7 linked regions of the Homo sapiens genome follow. The protein of the gene in region 1 purifies or fractionates together with the protein of each later gene. This does not show direct contact. Each region holds a gene or a part of one and is shown in the gene's direction. Other genes may lie near its edges.

Region 1 (4,175 bases):
GGAGGGAAGAAGGCCAAAAGGCTTGAGGGACATCTGAGTGGCGTGGAGGTGACAAGGCTCTGGGAGGGCAGCAGACACCCTCAACGAGGGTGGAAGGTCTGCTGGGACCAGCACTGCTGAGGCTCTGGCATCTCCGTACCTGTTTCTCCCATTTCCTCCAATGGCTCCAGAGTCCTTTGGGGGAAATACTGCTCCATCCAGACTCTGAGTGGCGTGGGCCAGGGCAGGGCATCATGGTCACCAGATGGCTCCCAGCACAGGAGAGGTACAGAGCCATCCCTCCAGGGTCAGCCTCCCTGGGCAAGCAGGCTGAGTCTACCTTGTCCGGGAGGGGAGGAGGCGCATCCTGAGGGCTTAGGGGGCGTGAGCGGAGGGGAGCTCAGGGTCCCTCGGTGGATGATGGAGGAGCCACATATGGGTTACAGGGACAGACAGAAAGATGGAGAGGAAGAGACAGGGAGGCAGACACAAGGTACACTGACAGGGTCTGAAGGAGGAGGGGCTGGGGGCCTGGACTCCTGGGTCTGACAGGTACAGAGAGGAACAGACACACGCTGAAAGAGACACAAAGAGAGAGGGGACAGGCATAGTGATTCACGCCTGTAATCCCAACACTTTGGGAGGCCAAGCGGGGAGGATCACTTGAGCCCAGGAGTTCGAGACCAGTCTGGGCAACAAAGTGAGATCCCCGCCCCATCTCTACAAAAAAAAAAAAAAAAAAAAAAAGAGGGTGGGGTGGGGAGAGGGGTGGAGTTGGGGAAATACAGAGACACAAATATTGCCAGAAACAAAAAACAAGAAAGGGCCAGGCACAGTAGCTCACATCTGTAATCCCAGCTCTCTGGGAGGCTGCTGAAGCAGGAGGATCACTTGAGGCCAGCAGTTCAAGACCAGCCTGGGGAACATATGGGACCGCCCCCCGCCACCCCTCTGTCTCTACTTTAAAAAAAATTTTTTTTAATTAACAAAACCTGACCAGGCACAGTGGCTCACGTCTGTAATCCCAGCACTTTGGGAGGCCAAGGTGGGCGGATTGCTTGAGGCCAGGAGTTCAAGACCAGCCTGGTCAACATGGTAAAATCCCTTCTCTAACAAAAAATACAAAAATTAGCTGGGCATGGTGACACGAGCCTGTAATCCCAGCTACTTGGGAGGCTGAGGCAGGAGAATCACTTGAACCTAGAAGGCGGAGGTTGCAGTGAGCTGAGATCGTGCCACTGCACTCCAGAAACTGATGGAGAAGAAACATGAAGGCGGGGAGAGAGAAACTGTCAGAGGGAGGGGGAGAGAGGCAGTCTGAGAGATAGAGACACCGAGGTAAACCCGCCTCCTTCCCCAGCCCCACAGGCATAAGTAGGCAGAAGCTCACCCCCACACTGACCTCCTTCTTGGTGCTCTGACAGCGGCAGCCGGTCCTCCCTCAGCTCTGCCCGCCTTCTCTCCTGCTGCTGGCCAAGCCCATTAAGCTGCTACCTTGGCCACAACTGAAGGCCCCACGCCCTGGGAAGAAAGCTACTGAAGAGGCGTCCCTGCTCCCCAGCACCCCAAACCATCAATTAATATTAACGAGGGAAGGCTCCTCATTGCCTAAAGACCCCACTGGGGCTCCAATGGAAGAGAGGCCCCGCCCCCGTGACTCAGGAGGTTAAAGGGCCTGGTGCCGGCTTGTGAGGCCAGTGTCCAGATGGCATCCAGCAGTGGGAGGGTCACCATCCAGCTCGTGGATGAGGAGGCTGGGGTCGGAGCCGGGCGCCTGCAGCTTTTTCGGGGCCAGAGCTATGAGGCAATTCGGGCAGCCTGCCTGGATTCGGGGATCCTGTTCCGCGACCCTTACTTCCCTGCTGGCCCTGATGCCCTTGGCTATGACCAGCTGGGGCCGGACTCGGAGAAGGCCAAAGGCGTGAAATGGATGAGGCCCCATGTAAAGTGTGGCTGGGGTCTGGGCTCTGGGGTCTGAGGGAGGAGGGGCTGGAGGCATGGACTCCTGGGTCTGAGGAAGGAAGGCTGGGGGCCTGGACTCCCTGGTCTGAGGGAGGAGGGGCTCGAGACCTGGACTCTTAGGTCTGAGGGAGGAGGGGCTGGGCCTGGACTCCTGGGTCTGAGGGAGGAAGGGCTGGGCCTGGACTCTTGGGTCTGAGGGAGGAGGGGCTGGGGACCTGGACTCCTGGGTCTGAGGGAGGAGGGGGCTTGGACCTGGACTTCTGGATCTGAGGGAGGAGAGGCCAAGGCCTGGACACCTGGGTCTGAGGGAAGAGGGGGCTGGGGACCTGGACTCCGGGGTCTGAGGGAGGAGGGGCTGGACCTGGACTCCTGGGTCTGAGGGAGGAGGGGCTGGGGACCTGGATTCTTGGGTCTGAGGGAGGAGGGGCTCGGGACCTGGACTCCTGGGTCTGAGGGAGGAGGGGCTGGGCCTGGACTCCTGGGTCTGAGGGAGGAGGGGCTCGGGACCTGGACTCCTGGGTCTGAGGGAGGAGGGGCTGGGCCTGGACTCCTGGGTCTGAGGGAGGAGGGGCTCGGGACATGGACTCCTGGGTCTGAGGGAGGAGGGGCTGGGCCTGGACTCCCGGGTCTGAGGGAGGAGGGGGCTACCATGGGACTGGCTCAGCACAACTTCTGGAGACCCAGGGAAGCCATGCTCCTGCCCACAGGCTTCCAGGCCTTTCATGGGCTTGGAGGCCCTCACTCCTCTGGATGAGACCTTTCCTCGCTTTCTCAGGCTGAGGCCTGGAATCCCCCACCACCCACAGGAGTTCTGTGCTGAGCCGAAGTTCATCTGTGAAGACATGAGCCGCACAGACGTGTGTCAGGGGAGCCTGGGTGAGACCCTGAACCCACCTGGAGTCCTCAGATCCAGCTAGTTTCAGCTGAGATCCTGACAGCTCCATCCCTTTGTCCACCCACTCCCGGCCCCTGGATCCCTCCTCAGTCTCTTCTCTCCCTAGGCCTCTCTCTCCCTCCTCCCTCCTTCCTTCCTTCCTTTTTTTTTTTTTTTTTTTTTTGAGATGGGGTCTCACTCTGTCACCCATTCTGGAATACAGTGGCACCATCATAGCTCACTGCAGCCTTAACCTCCTGGACTCAAGCAATCTTCCTGCCTCAGCCTCCCAAGTAGCTGGGACTACAGGTGCATGCCACCATGCCCAGCTAATTTTTAAATTTTCTTGTAGTGGAGTCTTGCCATGTTGGCCAGGCTGGTCTTGAACTCCTAGGCTCACGTGATCTTTCTGCCTTGGCCTCCCAAAGTGCTGGGATTAGAGGCATGAGCCACCGCACCAGGCCTCCCTCCTTCCATCCTCACCTAATCCTGGCCTCTCCTCCCAGGTAACTGCTGGTTCCTTGCAGCTGCCGCCTCCCTTACTCTGTATCCCCGGCTCCTGCGCCGGGTGGTCCCTCCTGGACAGGATTTCCAGCATGGCTACGCAGGCGTCTTCCACTTCCAGGTACAGCTCAGTTCCTCTGCCCATGCCTCCGTTTCCCCCATGGTGACTTGGTGATATGGATTTTTCTTTTTTTTTTTTTTTGAGATGGAATCTCACTCTGTCATCCAGGCTGGAGTGCAGTGGCACAATCTCGGCTCACTGCAACCTTCGCCCCGCCCCCAGGTTCAAGCAATTCTCTGCCTCAGCCTCCTGAGTAGCTGGGATTACAGGCACCCGCCATCATGCCCAGCTAATTTTTTCTTATTTTTAGTAGAGATGGTATTTCACCATCTTAGCCAGGCTGGTCTCGAATTCCTGACCTCGTGATCCATCCGCCTCGGCCTCCCAAAGTGCTGGGATTACAGATGTGAGCCACCGCACCCGGCCAGCCATATGGATTTCATAGTTAACGTTGACTTGGGGCTGTAATTCCTGACTCTGGGACTGGCACAGCAGAGGCAGGGCCCAGGCAGGGTTGGAGGTTGGAAGCCGAGTCCGGCCCTGCATCTTCTCCCACCAGCTCTGGCAGTTTGGCCGCTGGATGGACGTCGTGGTGGATGACAGGCTGCCCGTGCGTGAGGGGAAGCTGATGTTCGTGCGCTCGGAACAGCGGAATGAGTTCTGGGCCCCACTCCTGGAGAAGGCCTACGCCAAGTGAGGACCCCAGTTCCAACCAGCTGCAGCCCTAAGTCCCCACAGCAGGCATCAAGCCACAGGGGGACCCAGAGTCCCCCAAGCTCTGCAATCCTCCAAACA
Region 2 (3,500 bases), on another chromosome or scaffold:
AAAATGTGAGCCAGAAACATGAAGTGAGCCTATGCTGTTGGGAAAATGGCACCAATAGACTTACTCAATACACGGTTGCCAGAAATCCTTAATTGTAAAAAATGCAGTATCTGCAAAGTGCAATAAAATGAGGTATGCCAGTATAAGCTTTGTACTTTTTACTTAGTTTTGGTAACAAGTGTCTAAGAATTGGTGCAGTAAATGTGGACTCTTAACTTTCATGTATTTTTTTGTCAGTCTGTAACTGATTTCAGTTTGAGTTATGTATTATTTTTATGGTATTTATTATGTGTCCTTCTTTATAGTTTCTTATCACCACAGGAGAAAATCTAGATTATCTTGATGGTGTCCATACGGTGTTTGGTGAGGTGACAGAAGGCATGGACATAATTAAGAAAATTAATGAGACCTTTGTTGACAAGGACTTTGTACCATATCAGGATATCAGGTATGGTTACAATTTGCTATCTGAATGTACTAGAATGTTTTAATATTGAGATGTTTAACACGTAGTGGTATGGATAGGAACGGTATGCATAGGACTGGTTTCTGGATAATTCTAATCCCAAAAGGTGAATTAATATAAGACTGTAAGAATCTTTATAATAAAAAGGACTTTTTGTATTTTTATACTTGTACTAATTATTTATAATTATGTTTGGAGGAATTATTTATTTATTTATTTTTTGAGACGGAGTCTCATGCTGTTGCCCAGGCTGGAGTGCAGTGGCGCGATCTTGGCTCACTGCAAGCTCTGTCTCCCGGGTTCACACCATTCTCCTGCCTTAGCCTCCCAAGTAGCTAGGACTACAGGCGCCCGCCACCACACCTGGCTAATTTTTTGTATTTTTAGTAGAGACGGGGTTTCACCATGTTAGCCAGGATGGTCACGATCTCCTGACCTCATGATCCACCCACCTCAGCCTCCTGAAGTGTTGGGATTACAGGAATGAGCCACTGCACCCAGCTGGAGGAATTGTTAATGCTTTAATTTAGTTTTTTAATTGAGAAGTAGGGCAAAAGTACTAAGATTTAGACAGTTATATTAGTTTACATCTTAAAGTAATGCAGGGTGATAAATATGGTATCACTCAATGCAAAACAGTAACACTCATTGTGAAAGTATATCTAGGTTAGTAATATCCATATGCAATATGGGTTTTTTTTGGCCTTAGAGATAATCAAGTAATTTTTTGTAATCTATTAAAATAAAATAGGATTCTGAAATAACTTCAATGTATAACATTTGATTTGGATTTATTTTGTAAGGATAAATCATACGGTGATTTTAGATGATCCATTTGATGACCCTCCTGATTTATTAATCCCTGATCGATCACCAGAACCTACAAGGGAACAATTAGATGTAAGTAAAGCCCTCTTATGATTAAATGTACATTCATATTAATGATTTGTATGGATTTATCTTTTTCATCTGTTAAAGTTAATTTTTTCCGAATTATTATCTTGCTTAATTATATTCAACAAGTTTGGAGTTCTTTTTCTTTTCCACAGAGGTACTCATTTTTCTAGCTGTCTTCTCATTTCTCTAATTTCCTTTCTTCAGTTTCTTTTCTACTGAGACAACCTCAGCTCTAGAAGCTTACATGAACACCTTGGGAAAGTGTTTTTCTTGTCATCAAATTAAACTGTTATCTTGTGAGGTAACTTTTCAACTGGGGACACTCTGGAGCCAGGCTAGAACCCAGAAATTTCTGTGAAACAGCGCAGACTGTTCCCCCACATATTTTAAGGTTTATGTGGCTTCCTGAAAGCTGAATTTGTCTTTATGGTTGGGATTGGTGCTTAATTGTCAGATCATTTCTCTTCATTCAGCAGTTAGAATTGGATAATAAATAGTGTCCATATAAATATTTATTTATTTTTTTGAGATGGAGTCTCACTTTGTTGCCTAGGCTGGAGTGCGTGGTGGGATCTCGGCTCATTGTGGCCTCTGCCTTCCTCATTCAAGCAATTCTCGTGCCTCAGCCTCTTGAGTTGCTGGGATTGTAGGTGCATGCCACCACGCCCAGCTAATTTTTGTATTTTTAGTAGAGACAGGGTTTCACTGTGTTGGCCAGGCTGGTCTCGAACTCCTGACCTCAAGTGATCCACCTGCGTGTTCTCCCAAAGTGCTGGGATTACAGGCACGAGCCACCATGCCTGGCCTATTTTGATTTTAACAGAAGCCCACTTTGGCTAATATTTTAGAATTAATATAAATCAATTCTTGGAGGTTTATAAGTTTGTCTCAGTTGCTGTCCAATTAATTATTAAAAATTTTTTTTTAGAGACAAGATCTCACTGTGTCACCCAGCTGGAGTGCAGTGGTGTGATTGTAGCTCACTGCAACCTTGATCAGTTACTGTTTTAGCATGTTTGATATAACTAAGAATAAAGTATGTCTTCTATGTTTCTCAGATTTTTTTATTCTTTAAATATATACATGAGTAACTTCTGTCTTAACAGAGTGGTCGAATAGGAGCAGATGAAGAAATTGATGATTTCAAAGGAAGATCAGCTGAGGAAGTAGAAGAAATAAAGGCAGAAAAAGAGGCTAAAACTCAGGCTATACTTTTGGAGATGGTAAGATAATTATCTTTGTTCAAATTGTTCTGTAATATATCTAATAATACTTACTGAGTGTTTATTTCTGGCTCTTCAGTAGTCTTAAAATGTTAAAAATTGAGTTATGATTTTTTTCTGATTTAAATTTGGTATGGCATAGTAATAAATTGGCTCTACTGTGAAAATAAATTTGACTCTACTGTCAATATAGTGCTAAGTGCCTTTTTAAACAGTGGGAAGTGGATCTCTAACTTATTAATTGAATTTCAGTTGTTTAATATTCATCTCATTCTTAAAGAGTGTTTAGCAGGCTGAATTTTATGTATATTAAAGAATAGTTCTTCACTGTACCACTCAAGTGTTAAGATTAAACAGAATGGTAGTTGTAGGGCAAAATAATGGGTGGAAACTGAGCACTCTAAAATATACTGCTTCTCTGTATTACTAACAACCTGAAGTCATTTGGGGAATAATAATTCAGTAGATGATTAATTGACCTACTTGGTATTATTTTCCATTTCTTATTTTTGTAGAATAGGCATACCTGTCATATCATAGATAATAAATATTGGAATGAATGGATAATAAAGTTACTATTTTATATAATAGAACTTTCAGATTTGTAGTCTGTTTTAAAGTTTATTTATTTATTATTTTATAGAGACAGGGTCTCACTCTGTTGTTCAGGCTGGAGTACAGTGGTGTATGATCATAGCTTGCTGCAGCTTCCAACTCCTCAGCTTAAGCAATGCCCTTGCCTCAGCCTCCTGAGTTGCTGAGACCACAGTCACACACCACAATGCCCTGCTAATTTTAAAATTTTTTTTGTAGAGACAGGATCTCCCTATGTTGGCCAGGCTTAAGTTTATATTACCATCAACTGTCTGAATGAACAAATAGTAAAGGCTGTATAGTTCAAGAAAGCTTTACTG
Region 3 (3,500 bases), on another chromosome or scaffold:
CAGATAAATGCGGTACGTGCAATAGTTCCTAATAAGAGCAACAATGAAATTATCCTGGTTTTGCAGCACTTTGATAACTGTGTGGACAAAACAGTACAAGCATTCATGGAAGGTAATCCTGACTTAATTTTAAAAATAAATTTATATTTGCTCAAATAGAATTTGCTTCAGACTTTTATAACATTCAGCAATCCAGTGATTCATAGATGATAGAGCAGACCCCATGAAAACATAACATACCATGACATTTGACGATACCTCTTTCAGCTGAAATAAGCTATGTGGTGTCTATAATAAGAGATAAGCTGAGAAAACTCCATTGTTTCACGCTAAATGTTCTCTAATGGTATTTAAGAGGAAATCATGTGGCCAGTGGTATAAGGGACTTGATTGGACTTGGGTTGAATAAGAATTTAAGAGACTCTTAATAACAAAGCAGTGATTCAGTGGCTCACCAACAGATGGCAAATTCAAGGACTCAGTATTGTCTTCCGGATTCTAATATCGTTAGTTTGGCTGTGGCAAGTGACTCAAATGTGTGGGTTTGAATTTCCTTATCTAATACGTAGAAGAATGGCAGGCTTAGTCAACCCTTCAGATTTATAACATTGAGAAGTGTTTTATGAACCTTCCTTCCATGTAACCTGTTGGAGAAAAACTATCTGAAGCTATTGCGTCTTTGAATAGCAACATGAGGTTAGGTCTCCCTGTTTTTATTTTCCTGAATCTGCCAACATAGGATGCACAAGTTTGAATGTTGTAAAGTTTTTCTTTATCTTCATCTTTTTAAAAAATAATGTTAGTGTTTTGGTCTAGGGTAATGTGCAGCTGTCTCCAAAACAACATAGCCAAGGTGGGTGTGTAACTGGAGGGGAAAGGATGGCACACTTGGCTAAAACCAGTGTGCCATCCCCTTTGTATTTGGTCTAAGATGTATGGATAAGAGAATCTTCAAAATGGCCCAGCTACATTAGTCTCTTCTTAGAAGAACTTACTGAGGAAATTACTCGGAGAGGAGGGGTCTAAGTAGGCAGGTATTCCAAAAGGGAAGCATGGCATGATTATCTCATTACATTACTTTAGACCTGATCCTTAACTTTAACTTTTCTGTTAGGAGCTTTGTAAATTCTCCAGCAATTACAAAATGGGAGGACACTGACTCCTGCTTGACTACTGTGTGTGTGGTAGGAGACAAAATCTGTAATTGGTTTCTCTTACAGGTAGTGCCAGTGAAGTACTCAAAGAATGGACAGTAACAGGCAAGAAAAAGGTAAAATGAATTACATTTAAAAGCATGATGATGTGTATATTATTTTTAAAAATTTAGGCTCTGCAAAAATATTTGAAAGAAAAGGTTCACATACATATCTTCTGTTTACCTGGTTAAAAAACATCTTTGGCCAGGTGCAGGGGCTCACACCTGTAATCCCAGCACTTTAGGAGGCCAAGGCAGGTGGATCACTTGAGGTCAGTGGTTCAAGACTAGCCCGGCCAACATGGTGAAGTCCCGTCTCTACTAAAAAATAGAAAAAATTAGCCAGGTGTGGTGGCACGTGCCTGTAATCCCAGTTACTCAGGAGGGTGAGGCAGGAGAATAACTTGAACCCAAGAGGCAGAGGTTGCAGTGAGCCGAGATTGGGCCACTGCATTCCAGCCTGGGTGACAGAGTGAGACTCCATCTCAAAAAAAAAAAAAAAATTCTTCGACCTTGAAACATAGCTGTGTCTCACAGAGTACCACACAGTCCTCTCCGTGTGATTTAAGGCAGGAAACAGAATGACTTTGCCATGGTGCAGTTATTAGACGGGTGAAAAAGACAGCAAATCAAGGAAAGCAAGAGAAAGCGATCTAATTGAGTGGTTTTCAACCATATTCATACCATAAATCAGTTAAAACAGTTCAGATTTTTGGTCGGGCAACTGGGTTGTAGTCCTGATATTAATGAGCTTTGACATAAAGCTGTTAGGTGCTGGCCAGGCACGGTGACTCATGCCTGTAATCCCAGCACTTTGGGAGGCTGAGGTGGGAGGATCACTTGCGCCCAGGAGTTCAAGTCTGGGCAACATGATGAAACCTGATCTCAAAAAAAAGGCTATTAGGTGCCTTGCAGAGGGGTCTGATGTTCCACTTTGAGAGGTAGAAAGCACTCAGGCTATGGGATCAGTCAGAACTGGATTCCTACCCTGTTCCACTATCTACTGGCATTGTGACTGATATTGCTTAACATTTGTGCCTTAGTTTGCTCATCTCTAAAATAGAAAAATAGTTCTAATAAATACAAATACATAATACAACGCCTAACATATTAGTTCTCGTTCCTTTCTCCTTATTTACTTAAAATCAGATGCTTTTCCCAAAGGATACCAGCTGGTCTCAAAATTCTTCCCACAGCTCTGCACTGTAAAGGTAACCCCTTTAGGAAATGCTTGAAGTATGGATTTTAATCAAGTATCTCTGTGAAATCTGTTTGGGGTGTTCTTTTCTTTATTAAGTCAGTGCTGGAGTTCTGAAATGCTTTCATCATGACTCTTACATCACTTTTTAGGAGTCCTGTCAGGTCTTGAACAAAAACCAGGCTTGGCCTCAGTGACGCTTGAGAATTTTTTCCAAGGGTTACCTAATACTACACAGATTCTTCTGAAGCTCTTCATACCTGTAGTTTTGAATATTTGTTTAACTTCTTCCTGCTGCTTTCAACCTGTTACATAGATAACTGTGAGTGTCCTGGAAAACACCAGTTTCTTTTTTTTCTTTTTTCTTTTTTTTTTTTCTTTTTGAGATGGAGTTTTGCTCTGTCGCCCAGGCTGGAGTGCCGTGGCGCGATCTCGGCTCACTGCAGCCTCCGCCTCCTGGGTTCAAGTAATTCTCATGCCTCAGCCTCCTACGTAGGGCGGGACTACAGGTGCGTGCCACTGCGCCTGGCTAATATTTGTATTTTTTAGTAGAGACAGGGTTTCACCATGTTGGCTAGGCTGGTGTCGAACGCCTGACCCCAAGTGATCTGCGCACCTTGGCCTCCCAAAGTGCTGGAATTACAGGCATGAGCCACTGCACCCAGCTAACACCAGTTTCTTAATTTATTAGCCCAGGATTATAAGTTACTAGTGATATAAGATGTGCATGGACCTGGAAGAGGATGTGTGTTAGAGACACAGACATTCCTTAAAATTTGGAGAAAGAAATATGACTTCAGTTTAGCAGTCCCAAATGCACAAATCCAGTCCAGTCCACTTAACTGTTGGGATTAGTCCAATAGGATGTGACTCTGAGTGGGATAGTTATGATATACATGACCCAATGATATGAAAACTTAGCCAGTTCACATGGGGGAAAGTAAGAAAAAGAAAGATGAGGCCGGGCACGGTGGTTCATGCCTGTAATTCCAGCATTTTGGGAGGTCGAGGCAGGTGGATCACTGGAGGTCAGGGGATTGAGACCAGCCTGGCCAACATGGTGAAACCCTATCTCTACTAAAAATACAAAAAAATTAGCTGGGTGTG
Region 4 (4,110 bases), on another chromosome or scaffold:
GGGGTTCTTCCAAGGATTAAATGAGCTAGTACTTATAAAGCACTTGCTAATGTCTGTTAAATAAATTATATTATCCACACACCAATCCAAGGCGACTATAAGGTAGCAAGAACCACTCCAAGTCACATAAGAAAATGAATTCCTTTCGTTTTAGCTCCTCTCTTTATTTCAGCAGTGCGTTGTCAACAGGGCCACATTATGTTAGCAGATTTGAACTTTATCCGAAAGGTGTTTGTATTTTATTTCAAATTATGAATTCCTGAACATCGGATTATGTACGATTCTGCAGTGCCCTCGGAGGCCCATTAGAGTCTGGAGCTCGAGAAGCATAACAAACTCTGGTCTGATATTTGTAAGGAGCTTGACAGCCAAGGAGCCACTCAGAAACAGTTATTGGTATTGCCAAAAAAAAAAAAAAAAAAGGAAGCTAAGAAGTCACCCTTCTAAATAAATAAATAAATAAATAAATAAATAAAAACCTGAATTGGAGAGCTGCCTGCATTTCACTCTACTGCCTCTGGAAGAAGAGTGTTATCTAAAGTGCTTCCATCATGAATAATGATTGAGAAACTGCTTTTACTCTCCCGACTACTGTACTCCCAGGCAGAAACCCACGGCTGAAGCCCACGATGCCCATGTGTAACTTGGTTATTACACACACGTTTGGAGCCCAGTGTGCAGACCCGCAGCGCAGAGGAGGCGGCGGAACACCCCGGGTTGGTCGGGTTTCCAAGGGCTGACCCGAGCTCCAGCACTTTTTCCGCGCCTGATTTTTCAGGTCATTTTCGAATGGGCTATCTTTGCTTACATTTTGAGCTTGGATCCTCTCCAGAAAGCATTACTACCTTCTAAAAGGAAAAACATCTCGTATTTGCAGACAGTGCTGAGGGAGCAAAGTTCATTTTCTCGGGTAGGAGAAGATGATTCTCTTGCAACACGTGCGGATTGTGACAAAATCTTTCATTAACAAGGGGAGTTTCGGTGAAGTGGAGGTTTGGGGAAAGGCGAGGAAGTCGGTCTGGAGCAAGCAAGCAAAGTGCGGAAGCTGTACTGGGATTCTTCTAGAAAGTGGGGTGGGAAAGGAGCTAGGGAGGGCGTGTGGAGGGACGAGATCTGTGTCAGAACGTGCGTGTGAGCGGATACAAAACCCGAGAGAGGCGTGAGCAGCGCTGTGTTTGCGAGCGGGAGCGAGGGGCGCCGGCTGGGGTGTGTGCTCCTGGTGAGTGACACCGAGGGGAAGGCGGGCGGGTCGGCGGGCGGGGGCAGCCTGCGAGGGGCGGGAGTGTCCCTGCGTGGGGCGGCCGAGCCGGAGTTGTGTCAGTGAAGGAATCCAGTCCGGGGGCCGAGCTGGCTGCGCCCTCCGCTGCAAGCGCCGGCAGCGCGGGGCGAGCTCCGGACGGCGCGCGGCCCAGGCAGCGGCTCCCGCTCGGCCCGCCCTCCGAGCCGCAGGGGCCGCCACCGCCGCGGCGCCTCCCCTGGCGACCGCGCCCCCGGGCCCCGGCTCCGGCCCGGGACGGAGGAGCCGGCGCTCGACACAGAGGTAAGCCCAGGACCCCCTCCACGCCGGGCCGGCTGGGGATGCAGGGCGCGGGCGGACGCGGAGGGGCCTGCGCGGCCGGGACGGAGACTCGGCTGGGCCGAGCATTCCGCAGCCCGGGCCGCCCAGCCTCCGCCGCCTCCCGGAGCGCTGGGTGTGGCCCGCGCTCGGCGCCGAGGCGGGCTGGTGGCGCGGACCGGACGCGAAGGTCGCCGTCCTTCCTTTCTCCAGCCGGCGCGGGCAAGCGGGAGGAGGCGCCGGCTGGGACGCACAGTGGCGCTCCCCGGGCGAGCGTGTGGCCGCCGCGCTCCGACGTGTACCCGCCCGCCCCGGATCTGAATCGCCCGCGGCCGCCGTCCCTCGCCTGCCGTCCTCCCGCGCGGGCGCCCCCGTTCCCTCCCAAGCCGGAAAGAGACCCACCGTCCCCCAGGCTGCTCTCTGGCCCGGAGCCGCAAAGCCCACGTCAGCCGCGACCACCCCGCCCTCGGATCCCAGCCGGGTGCGGGGGCCGCGGCCCCACTGAACCCCGCGCCCCTGGCGCCCAGCGGGAGTGGGATGCGTTGGCGTCCGCGCTGCGCGGGTGGGCTGGGGTGGCCGGAGCAGACGCGGAGCGCCCTGGCCGCGGGACGAAGCGGTCGCGCCGCCGCATTTGGGCGGGGGGACCCCGGAGTCCGCGGGCTGCGGACCCCAGCGGGAGACGGGGTTGTCGTAGGATGCGCTCGCGCTGGACGCCGGCGCACTCTGAATATCATGCTGCCGCACACGCGGGGCTGAAGGGCCGAGTCTTCACCTGCGCGGGGATGCGGCGGAAGCGTCGCGTCTTCGCGAGTGGAGGTTTCGTGTTCCCGCGGGGTTGGTGTGTTTTTGAACTTCACGAGCTTCTCATCCCCCCCGCAATCCTGGTTTTAGCAGATGTCGGGGTTTTGGAGACCTGACACTTTTCGTGAAAGATTCTTTCTGTACGTTTTCTTTTGGCTATATTACAGGGTTTGTAGCTTGAGAACTAGTGAAAACCCTTGAACTTCAAACACAGTCTCATTGCTTATTTTTTGAAATTTAAATATTAAAATATGTACCAGCCCCCTCACAAGCCGACAGACTTTAAGACAAACGACTGTGAAATTTTAGAACCTGTGCAGAGAAAGTGGTTTTATACCAGTACTTGAAATAGTAAGGTCGTGTAACCTTTTTAACATCGTTTTAGTTTGTCTTAAAGGAAGGTTTCAGCACCACTTTGACTGGTACTGTTTTCCAGAGTTTAAGCAGATGTATGTAATATAGCAGGGAAGAGGACAGGAAGTCAGAAATCTCTTCACTCTGAAAAAAAAAAAAGACTTCAAATAATACAACCAATACCCTGAAAATAGAGTGGCCGTCTGGATAAAGTATTTGATAGGCCTTATGAAATTGTGTTGCTTAACCAGAAAGCAATGTGTTGTTAGATAGGGCAGTTTTATCTAGTAACTGTCGTGTTTAAAAATATCTGTGTATGATATTCTTTGTTGAATTTTAACTGGGGAAAAATCAACTTTGGGAATGGGTTTCTATTTGGACAAGGCAAATACTGCAGTTTCTAATTAGAGTTTTGGAATAAGCTCAAGCTGTGTTAAAACCTATTGTATGGAGCAGCAGAACAGAAAACATGTCAAATCTGTATCTGTGTGGCAGAAAACATGTCAAATTCTGTATCTGTGTGGCTTTAAATACACACACACACACACACAGACACACAAACTAGAGACTAGCCCCAAAAGATAATTTGCATAAAAATACAATCACTTGAATGCAGAGAATAGCTAAAGACGTTAGTAAAAACTGAACATCTGGGAAAAGACTGTATTAATTGGCAATTTTCTTTCTTTAATCCCTGAAAATATTAAATGATTTTCTAAGAATCAACTTAGTTTAATGTGCTCATTTAGACAGGCAAAATGATCAAGACTCCTTTTGTATTCATTTTGTTTTAGGGAGCCCCCTAATGAAAGTCTTCAGTAAATAGTTTTTCTGCATGCACTGATTTTCCTGAGGCCATTGTGGAGAGAGTTATCTGTGGGCTTGAGAAGCTGCTCTGCCACACCAGTAAGGATCAGGGAAAGAAAATACTTAGGCCACACCGTTGCAGTCTTTGATTGCATGCCAGTCTGAAGCATTTTATGGACCCGTTTTGCCATGTAAGTGGTAAGCTTTTACATCAGAAGTTAAGCTTTAGAAATATCTCACTTTGGGGCCTAATTTTTGTGAGTTTCTCAGTCTGCGATCAGAGTTGTGTTATCAATCACAGTGAATGTTCGTGAATGGTTGTGTGTTGAAAGGGCATAGGTGGTCTTCATTCTATTACTTTACACAGTTTTAATCAGCATTTTCTGAGGTGAGCCAGGACAAGAACTTCTGGTTACAGTTTGGATAGGATGGAAAAAGTTGTGGTTGCTCTTCGTAAGATCTAAGCTGCTACTACCTGTCCCACTGTATGACAAGAGTGGAATGCATTTTATGTGCACTTGACAGGTACTGCTTAGTCACTGCTTCATAGTACTTCTTTCCTAGCCATCTTCTGTAGCACTTTTACTGTCATT
Region 5 (2,409 bases), on another chromosome or scaffold:
TAGTTCTCTGAAACAAGATTATTCAGGAACCATTACTTTATCTTTTAATATATAAGTGGTTTAAAGTGATCATCAGTGTAGTTTTGACAATCTTAAATTTGATATAATGAAGAATATGTGCCAGCTATCAACAGCCATTAAAAGAAGTATAGTAAAAGATGTTTGGCAACTGTAGACATTTTTATTTTCTTCTGTCTTGTCTATTCAAAAGGCTTTTGCAACAGTTGTGACAGCTGCTGAAAAAATGGATGCAAATTCTGCAACCTCAGAAGAAATGAATGAAATTATCCAGTATCCTTTTAAAACCATTTCTACAATGTCCAACTACACATAAAATATAAGTTTATAATTTCTCCAGGTCTACACTAGATATTTATAAAGGCGTACTCCAAACAACCGTATTACTTGTTAATATTAACCATATGGTGCTAGAATAACTGAAATTTCTGAATCTTTATTTTGAATTTAATCCAAAATGAGACCAAACCTAAAACTTTTGGTATCAAATTTATATCAAGATTATATTTTAAAATTTACCAAAAATGAAACTGCCATTATTGAATTCTCTTTTTTTGGTTTTTGTTTTTTTTGTTTGTTTGTTTGTTTTTGAGACGGAGTCTCGTCTATCGCCCAAGCTGGAGTGCAGTAGTGCGATCTTGGCTGACTGCAACGTCCGCCTCCTGGGTTCAAGCAATTCTCCTGCCTCAGCCTCCCAAGTAGCTGGGATTACAGGTGCCTGCCACCAAGCCCAGCTAATTTTTGTATTTTTAGTAGAGACGGGGTTTCACCATGTTGGCCAGGCTGGTCTCGAACTCCTGACCTTGTGATCCGCCCGCCTTGGCCTCCCAAAGTGCTAGGATTATAGGTGTGAGCCACCTCACCCGGCCTAATTCTTTTTTTTTTTTTTTTTTTTGAGACAGAGTTTTGCTATTGTTGCCCAAGCTGGAGTGCAGTGGCACGATCTCGGCTCACCGCAACCTCCACCTCCCGGGTTCAAGCGATTCTCCTGCCTCAGCTTCCCAAATAGCTGGGATTACAGGCGCCTGCCACCATGCCTGGCTAATTTTTGTATTTTTAGGGGAGATGGGATTTCACCATGTTGGCCAGGCTGGTCTTGAACTCCTGACCTTAGGTGATCTGCCTGCCTCGGCCTCCCAAAGTGCTGGGATTACAGGTGTGAGCCACTGACCTGGTCTGAATTCTCTATTTTTCTAATGTACGTTTAGAAGTGGGGGCGGGGAGCAATTTCCATACTATGTAGAACATTAGATTTAGGAAGCATTAAGTACTTTTCCATTTATGTTTTATTGATAGTGGATTCTAATTAATGTTTTCCAGTAACAGTTATAGTTTAATTTAGGAGTTTATATCTGAACTATCTACTTCATTTTACCAACTAGTATTTTAACATTGAGATTTTAATCCCTTTTTGTCAAAAATACAGCACGGCCAGTTTCCTTAATTAAAGCCTCCAGTGCTCGGTTTATTAGAGCTGTTTCTGAACTAGAACTTTTAGGATTTATAAAACCTACCAAACAGAAGACTGACCATGTGGCAAGACTAACATGGGGAGGCTGCTAGAAAGCAAATAAGCAAAGCCAGAACTATCACATTTAGCTTAAGAGAAAAAGGTGACCAGTCATATTTACATATATTAGAGGAGCCTGTTTTGTTGAGAAGATAAATGTGTAACCCCCATTGATGTTTAACCAGAAAAGTACATTGCTAACCCCAAACAGGCATGTATCAAAACACCTGTGGAGTACTTTAGACTCCAACAAATAATAATGTAACTAAAACTGCTCACACATTTTACTGTACTTTCCAAAGTCATTACTAAATTGTGAGTAAATCATTCTTGAACTTAGAGTATGTAAATGTAATAAATTCCGTTATCCAGGAGTATAAATTATTTGCAGTTGCTTTAGCAATCCTCATTCCTCCTCTCCCAATTCCCTGCATTGGCATTCCTCACTTTAGTGTAGTAGGCAGTAAGTAACATGAATATCTTACAGGTTGTTTCTCCTGGTGACTACATAGGTTCCAAAACTGTCTCTGCCTCTCCATTTCCTGTAGTCTTACAACTTTAAAGAAAAAAAAAAAAGGCCAGGCGTGGTGGCTCACACCTGTAATCCCAGCACTTTGAGAGGCCAAGGCGGGTGGATCACAAGGGCAGGAGATCGAGACCATCCTGGCCAACAAGGTGAAACCCCATCTCTCCTAAGAAATACAAAAAATTAGCCAGGTGTGGTGGCACATGCCTGTAGTCCCAGCTACTCGGGAGCCTGAGGCAGGGGAATTGCTCGAACCCGGGAGGCGGAGGTTGCAGTGAACTGAGATCGGCCACTGCACTCCAGCCTGGGTGACAGAGTGAGACTCCGTGTCAAAAAAAAAAGTCCCAAACTGTTT
Region 6 (3,500 bases), on another chromosome or scaffold:
TGTTTTTACCTTATGGCTGTGATTCATAGTGCTGATATGAACATTGGTCTATAAGTATTTGTTTGAGTACTTGTTCTCAGTTCTTTTTGGTGTACACTTAGAAATGGAATTGCTGGATCATATGGTAATTTTGTGTTTAACTTCTTGAGGACCTCCGAACAATTTTCCACCTCGGCTGAACCATTTTACATTCCCACCAACAACATACGAGGGTTCCAATTTCTTGACTTTCAAGTTTTACACTTAACATAAAAGGCATTGTGTACCTGCTAGTTTGCTAGAAAAGGAGAAACCAAAGTGGTTAACAATTAACAAGTCTTCTTTTATTTTCCAGAAACTTAACTTGCTTTGATTCTTCTTAGATATGTGGTAGATGGTGGCTTCGTGAAGCAGTTAAATCACAACCCCAGATTAGGGTTGGACATCCTGGAGGTGGTTCCAATTTCAAAGTAAGTCTCTATGTCAAATCTTTTTATTCAAAGAACAACTGATTAGGTAATTTCTAGCTGTTTTGGGGAGACAAAGTAAATTACCTGAGAAACCCACAGAACATTTTGGGGAATTTTTGGGTTTTTTTCCTTTTGTAGGAGCGAGGCATTACAGCGAAGTGGCCGAGCTGGCAGGACTTCTTCAGGAAAATGCTTTCGGATCTATAGTAAAGATTTTTGGAACCAGTGTATGCCTGACCATGTGATCCCTGAAATTAAGAGAACTAGTTTGACATCTGTAGTTCTGACCTTAAAGTGCCTTGCCATACACGATGTCATAAGGTATGTAGACAACTAGAAAAAAAAGGAAAAACTTGTTAGCCTGGAACCAAGTTATTGGCTCAAAAATTATTTTGAAATATTTGACTGATACATCCCTGAGAGTTGAGGCTAACCTCTTTTACAGGTTGGTTTTTATATTGGTTGCTTTTCTTTTCTTTTTTTTTTTTTTTTTTTTTTTTTGAGATGGAGTCTTGTTCCGTTGCCCAGGCTGGAGAGCAGTGGCACGATCACGGCTCACTGCAACCTCCGCCTCCCGGGTTCAAGCAATTCTCCTGTCTCAGCCTCCCGAGTAGCTGGGACTACAGGTACCTGCCACCATGCCCAGCTAATTTTTGTATTTTTAGTAGAGATGGAGTTTCACCTTGTTGGTCAGGCTGGTCTCGAACTCCTGACCTCAGGCGATCCACCCACCTCGGCCTCCCAAAATGCTGGGATTACAGGTGTGAGCCACTGTGCCTGGCTCTATTGGTTGCTTTTCAACTAAACTAACACAGAAGACTTCCTTGCATTGCTTTAGTAGGATCTCTTGCTCATGTTTAACCTTGGCTTAATGGCGGGGTTAGGGGGTTGTGCTGATGTTTATGTGGATCACTTAGTGACCACTGTTTATTTGTAATGAAAGGTATATAATGAGCTGGGCATAACAGCTTATGCCTGTAATCTCAGCACTTTGGATGGCCAAGGTGGGAGGGTTGCTTGAGCCTAGGATTTCGAGACAAGCCTGGGCAACATAGTGAGACCTTGTCTCTACAATTAAAAAAAAAAAAAAGTCTGATATGGTGCATGCTTGAGTCCCAGATATTTGGAGGCTGAGACGGGAAGATTGCTGGAGCCGGGCAGGTAGAGGCTGCAGTGAGCCATGATTGCACCACTGCGGTCCAGCCTGGGCAACAGAGTGAGACCCTGTTTCAAAAGAAGGGGGCTGGGCGTGGTGGCTCACGTCTGTAATCCTAGCACTTTGGGAGGCCAAAGTGGGCGGATCCCTTGAGGCCAGGAGTTTGAGACCCGCCTGGCCATCCTGGCAAAACCCCGTAGCTACTGAAAATATAAAAATTAGCTGAGCTTGGTGGCACGTGATTGTAGTCCCAGCTACTCCGGAGGCTGAAGCACGAGAATCACTTGAACCCAGGAGGCAGAGACTGCAACGTGCCAAGATCACACCACTGCACTCCAGCCTGGTCAACAGAGCGAGATTCTGTCTCAAAAAAAACAAAACAAAACAAAAGGGTATACAGTTGGAAAGTGGAGTGTTTTTTTTGTATGGCCAGCATCATACTATATACCATGAAAGACAGAGTAATACTCTGTAGTTTTTTGCTTTCACTAAGCTTAAGTTATATTAGGAAAACAAGGTTCAGACACGTGAAATAAAGGAAGAACAGTTAAATTAGCCAAATATTAATATAATTTATTGGTATAAGATAGAATATTGTTATAGATAGAAATTTCTATCATACATGGTAGGGGAATTAATGGAGGAAAGTACTATCTTCTTTATTTTGGTCTTAATTGCCTTGGAATGTAAAACTGCTCAGGAATTTTGGGGGATGGTAACCGTGCAGTTTTTAAATTCATAGTAAGTGATTATTAGGTGCATCCAAATATGTATTGTAGGCCGGGTGCGGTGGCTCACGCCTGTAATCCCAGCACTTTGGGAGGCCGAGACGGGTGGATCACCTGAGGTCAACCTGGCCAACATGGTGTAACCCTGTCTCTATTAAAAATACAAAATTAGCCAGGATGGTGGTGCTCGTCTGTGATCCCAGCTACTTGAAAGCCTGAGGCAGGAGAATTACTTGAACCCGGGAGGCAGAGGTTGCAGTGAGCCGAGATTGCGCCATCGCACTCCAGCCTGGGCAACAAGAGCGAAACTCTGTCTCCAAAAAAAAAAAAAAACCAAAAAAAGCAAAAAAAAACCCCAAAACCCACAAATACTCATTGTATACTCTTGGAAAGCCAATTTGCCAATTTCAAAATGTTTTGATAGTTATCATTAGATTAGAGATTTTCTGAATGAGAATATGTAGATACTGGAAAGAGAAAAGCATGTAATAAATGAAATTCTGACTGTAGCAATAAATTATACCAATGAAAAGAAGGAAAGCGCCATTTAAAGAAATCCAAAGAGCCCAATAGAAAACTTTCAGATGAACCCAGATATTAAAATAATGTCTTGATTTTTTTCATTTGGGGAAAAAGGGCCATTTTTGGAAATAGCTGCTCAGTAAGTTTGACATTGACTCTTAGTATATTCACAAAGGATAGCAGAGCAGCCTCTAACCAAGAATGAGTATATATTAGAAAAATAGGAACAATAATTAATATCATCTGCATTGAATTATTTTTCCATCTTAAGTCTTAAAAGCCATAGTGTACTAAAAATCGCAAAATTATGTTTCAAAATGCTTGAAACAAAAAACAAAGACTTCCTTTTTAAAAAGTTGTATAAAGAATAAGGAGAGGTAGAGCCAGTGTTTGGGGTAGATGGTATAGGATTCATAGACGACAGAAAGAAAATGGATCTTCTCAATTATTATTTTGCTTTCCCTTTCTTTTCCATCAGGAAGAATAATTTTAAAGCTGAAAATGCAAGAACAGGTCTGAATAAGAAGGAATTGATGACTAAGGTGGAAGGAAATAATGAGGGAAAACCTACCACCATAAGTGATTTTGTCTTGAGCATTTAGACATTATTTCCGTGGTGTTAAAAGAACTTGCAGATTTAGCGTC
Region 7 (3,500 bases), on another chromosome or scaffold:
AACAAAAAGTAGATTTAACAAGGTACCTAGAAAACCAAACATTTCGTTTTGATTATGCCTTTGATGACTCAGCTCCTAATGAAATGGTTTACAGGTAGGTAAATTCATTTTAAATCAGAATTTTGTTCTTATGCCATGTGGTCATCAGCACCTTGAAATTTACATTGATTGTGGGATATTTCTTAAGAGGTGCAATATGCTGTTTTATTCTGAGTTTAAACAAAGAGAATGTAATAAATGCTGTAATGAATATTAACACTTGTTCTCTGTAATGCTCCCCAAAATCATAGTTTCCATTACTATTTGCTAATTAGCTTATTACACATATATATACATATATATACATATCACACAAACCATGTATATGGATAAGAAATTTCGGGAAAATGTTAACATTACCTCTAGGAATAGGATATGATAAGAAGACTTTTAATTTTTACCTTTTAATCTCTGTACTAATAAAGAAACTTGAAATGTTTGTTTGAGGCATGGTCTTGCTCTGTTGCCCAGGCTGGAGTGCAGTGGCACGATCACAGCTCACTGCAGCCTCGACCTTCCAGGCTCAGGTGATCCTCCCATCTCAGCCTCCTGAGTAGCTGGGACCACAGGCATGCACCACCACACCCAGCTAATTTTTGTACTTTTTGTAGAGTTGAGGTTTCGCCATGTTGCCCAGGCTAACCTCAGACTCCTGAGCTCAAGTGATCTGCCCGCCTTGGCTTCCCAAAGTGCTGGGATTACAGGCATGAGCCACTGTTATGCCTGGCCAAAATACCTGTTATCAGTTAATTATTAATTTATCTAAATCTGTATTTAGTATGTATTGTCACTTAAGGCGAAAAAGTTCCGTACTTGTATTTAAATTTGTCATCTTTAAGCTTGGAGATAGTTTTAGTACATGAGATTCTTGTATGTTTTCTGTATTCAACTTAAAAATAATTCAAATTTATCTGTGTTATACATTGGTATCTCAAATTTTTATGCCAGATTTAGATTTTCATACGTAAGTTTGCAAACATTCATTTCTAATAATTATAACACCAGTTTTAGCAGTATTGTTATTTTGGTTTATCTAGGAATATTACTGTCTTTGTAATTGCTTGAATACTATATCTGATTGCCCTTTTTCATAAAAATGCCTAGAAAGGAAAAAATTAGAGTTAATGAGACTAAGAATTGAAGGTGTTACAAAGGAAATACTTTTGAGACCAACTCTTTTTGTCTTCACCAAGTGTACTGGGTAGTCAGTTGTAAAAAAAAAAAGGATCAAATTAAAGGACATATGAATACTAGATAGAGATATTTGTGAAGAATATGTTTAAAGGGGAATCATAATTGTTAATTGTAGAATTTTTTTTTAGCTTTCTGAAGAGTCCACTTTTCCTTTTCATTCCCTCTTTCTACTCCTGCCTCATAAAATATAAGTTTGACTTTTATAATAGTTTTTAAGAAATTATTACAAATACAGGCATGTTTCTGTGTGTATGATTTAGTAAACATTGTGTTTTTACCCTATGTTTATGTTTCTTAACTTTATCAATATTTATCCTTCTCCTCTATCTCTTATACTTAACTATTATGGATTGAGGAGTTACATGTTTTTTTGTGGGTAGGGTTGGGAGGTAGGGGTTTGATCTACTTAGCAGGCTCATCCCTAGTTCTGTTTGACCAGAACTTTTTCCTGCTCCTTTTGTTCTGTACTTTCTTCAGTTTTGCCTTTTACAAAACAAAACAAAGACAGCAGTTATATAAAATGTTCTACTTGTAGATCTGTTTTCCATCTTTTTTTTTTTTTGTTTTTTTGAGGCTGAGTTTTGCTCTTGTCGCCCAGGCTGGAGTGCAGTGGCATGATCTCGGCTCACTGCAACCTCTGCCTCCCAGTTCAAGCGATTCTCCTGCCTCAGCCTCCTGAGTAGCTGGGATTACAGGCGTGTGCCACCACGTTCAGCTAATTTTGTATTTTTAGTAGAGACGGGGTTTCACCATGTTGGTCAGGCCGGTCTCGAACTCCTGACCTCAAGTGATCCACCCACCTCAGCCTCCCAAAGTGTTGGGATTACAGGCATGAGCCACCACGCCTGGCCTCCATCATACTTTTTAGTGTACTGCTCAGGGGAAAAGTACTTCTTATACCTTCCCACCTTTTTATTTTAACTCTAGCAGTGGGTTATACCAATACATTTGAAATATAATTCAAGGCCGGGTGCGGTGGCTCATGCCTGTAATCCCAGCACTTTGGGAGGCCAAGGCGGGCAGATCGCCTGTGGTCAGGAGTTTGAGACCAGCCTGACCAACGTGGTGAAACCACGTCTCTACTAAAAATACAGAAATTAGCTGGGTGTGGTGGCAGGTGCCTGTAATCCCAGCTACTCGGGAGGCTGAGGCAGGAGAATCACTTGAACCCGGGAGGCGGAGGTTGCAGTGAGCTGAGATCGCGCCATTTGCACTCCAGCCTGGGGGACGAGAACGAGACTTCGTCTCAAAAAAAAAAAAATGTAATTCAAACCATAATATTTAGGTATCCTTTTCCTAAATTGAGAGTGTCAACTTACTAATAGAATTCATTTTCCTACAAGCACAATTTATATTCTTTTTGCTTAAGTATAAATTACTTGTCTAAATTCAAGGTAATCAACATTTTTCTATTTATTTAGATGGTCTATAGATAATATTTTTGCAGTTTTTTTCCTCTATTAACTTTTTAAAATTGAGATTACCACTCTTGTTTATTCTGTTTCTGTTGAAATTATAATACTTTGTGTTTGTTTTTATTGTATATGCCTTATTGTGACCATTATTTATTATGGAAATATTGCTTGAAATTATGCTTTAAGTAGTTTAAGTAATTTTAGCATATGATATTTAAAATTCTTAAATCAATTCTTCGATATTGTTATTTAAAATTTTTAACAAAGATTTGTTTAGAATCTTGCTATTAAGTTTTATTTATTAATAAAATACTTTGTATTACTCAGCATTACTATTATTCATCAAAATATTGGTGACACATTCTGACTGATGCATTTTATTTTTAAGGTTTACTGCTAGACCACTAGTGGAAACTATATTTGAAAGGGGAATGGCTACATGCTTTGCTTATGGGCAGACTGGAAGTGGAAAAACTCATGTAAGTAATTTATTAAAGTTACATTCTGGTACGAAGCTACAGTTTCTTTTCCTTATAGCTTAATTCTGTGAACTAAATTCTTAAGAGTTATTCCTGAGTAATGTCTGTTCTTTATTTTCTTTTTAAAATATAGACTATGGGTGGTGACTTTTCAGGAAAGAACCAAGATTGTTCTAAAGGAATTTATGCATTAGCAGGTAACTGTCCTTTTTCCATAAAATTTGGAATATTCTTCTGTGGTATTATTCAGGTAACTTTGAAATAAGGCTTTAAAATATTGTTCAGCAACTATAATGCTATATTAACTGTCTATTATGTCAATTATAGGTTATTAGATTGCTTGAAAAGAACTATAAGATTATATATTCACAAT

What was found.
Region 2: the proteins of CAPN12 (region 1) and PPIL4 purify together in Homo sapiens (affinity purification with mass spectrometry; one large-scale study listed by BioGRID and IntAct). This does not show direct contact.
Region 3: the proteins of CAPN12 (region 1) and SPATS2 purify together in Homo sapiens (affinity purification with mass spectrometry; one large-scale study listed by BioGRID and IntAct). This does not show direct contact.
Region 4: the proteins of CAPN12 (region 1) and SPATS2L purify together in Homo sapiens (affinity purification with mass spectrometry; one large-scale study listed by BioGRID and IntAct). This does not show direct contact.
Region 5: the proteins of CAPN12 (region 1) and ORC3 purify together in Homo sapiens (affinity purification with mass spectrometry; one large-scale study listed by BioGRID and IntAct). This does not show direct contact.
Region 6: the proteins of CAPN12 (region 1) and DHX40 purify together in Homo sapiens (affinity purification with mass spectrometry; one large-scale study listed by BioGRID and IntAct). This does not show direct contact.
Region 7: the proteins of CAPN12 (region 1) and KIF2A purify together in Homo sapiens (affinity purification with mass spectrometry; one large-scale study listed by BioGRID and IntAct). This does not show direct contact.

What each region holds. Positions count from the first base shown.
Region 1 is NC_000019.10:38,741,675-38,745,849, reverse strand, and holds the start of CAPN12 (calpain-12), read left to right. Parts: upstream 1-1,375; 5' UTR 1,376-1,684; coding exon 1,685-1,921; intron 1,922-2,716; coding exon of another isoform or gene 2,717-2,747; coding exon 2,748-2,817; intron 2,818-3,321; coding exon 3,322-3,440; intron 3,441-3,939; coding exon 3,940-4,073; intron 4,074-4,175. UniProt on the Homo sapiens protein: Calcium-regulated non-lysosomal thiol-protease.
Region 2 is NC_000006.12:149,532,544-149,536,043, reverse strand, and holds part of PPIL4 (peptidyl-prolyl cis-trans isomerase-like 4), read left to right. Parts: intron 1-305; coding exon 306-448; intron 449-1,269; coding exon 1,270-1,366; intron 1,367-2,469; coding exon 2,470-2,586; intron 2,587-3,500. UniProt on the Homo sapiens protein: PPIases accelerate the folding of proteins. It catalyzes the cis-trans isomerization of proline imidic peptide bonds in oligopeptides.
Region 3 is NC_000012.12:49,489,462-49,492,961, forward strand, and holds part of SPATS2 (spermatogenesis-associated serine-rich protein 2), read left to right. Parts: intron 1-3; coding exon 4-112; intron 113-1,220; coding exon 1,221-1,270; intron 1,271-3,500.
Region 4 is NC_000002.12:200,305,383-200,309,492, forward strand, and holds the start of SPATS2L (SPATS2-like protein), read left to right. Parts: upstream 1-1,310; 5' UTR 1,311-1,540; intron 1,541-3,504; exon of another isoform or gene 3,505-3,690; coding exon of another isoform or gene 3,691-3,708; intron 3,709-4,110.
Region 5 is NC_000006.12:87,665,543-87,667,951, forward strand, and holds the end of ORC3 (origin recognition complex subunit 3), read left to right. Parts: intron 1-211; coding exon 212-291; intron 292-1,468; coding exon of another isoform or gene 1,469-1,475; coding exon 1,476-1,581; 3' UTR 1,582-1,909; downstream 1,910-2,409. UniProt on the Homo sapiens protein: Component of the origin recognition complex (ORC) that binds origins of replication. DNA-binding is ATP-dependent. The specific DNA sequences that define origins of replication have not been identified yet.
Region 6 is NC_000017.11:59,579,110-59,582,609, forward strand, and holds part of DHX40 (probable ATP-dependent RNA helicase DHX40), read left to right. Parts: intron 1-362; coding exon 363-449; intron 450-587; coding exon 588-770; intron 771-3,500. UniProt on the Homo sapiens protein: Probable ATP-dependent RNA helicase.
Region 7 is NC_000005.10:62,358,206-62,361,705, forward strand, and holds part of KIF2A (kinesin-like protein KIF2A), read left to right. Parts: coding exon 1-94; intron 95-3,036; coding exon 3,037-3,127; intron 3,128-3,260; coding exon 3,261-3,324; intron 3,325-3,500. UniProt on the Homo sapiens protein: Plus end-directed microtubule-dependent motor required for normal brain development. May regulate microtubule dynamics during axonal growth. Required for normal progression through mitosis. Required for normal congress of chromosomes at the metaphase plate.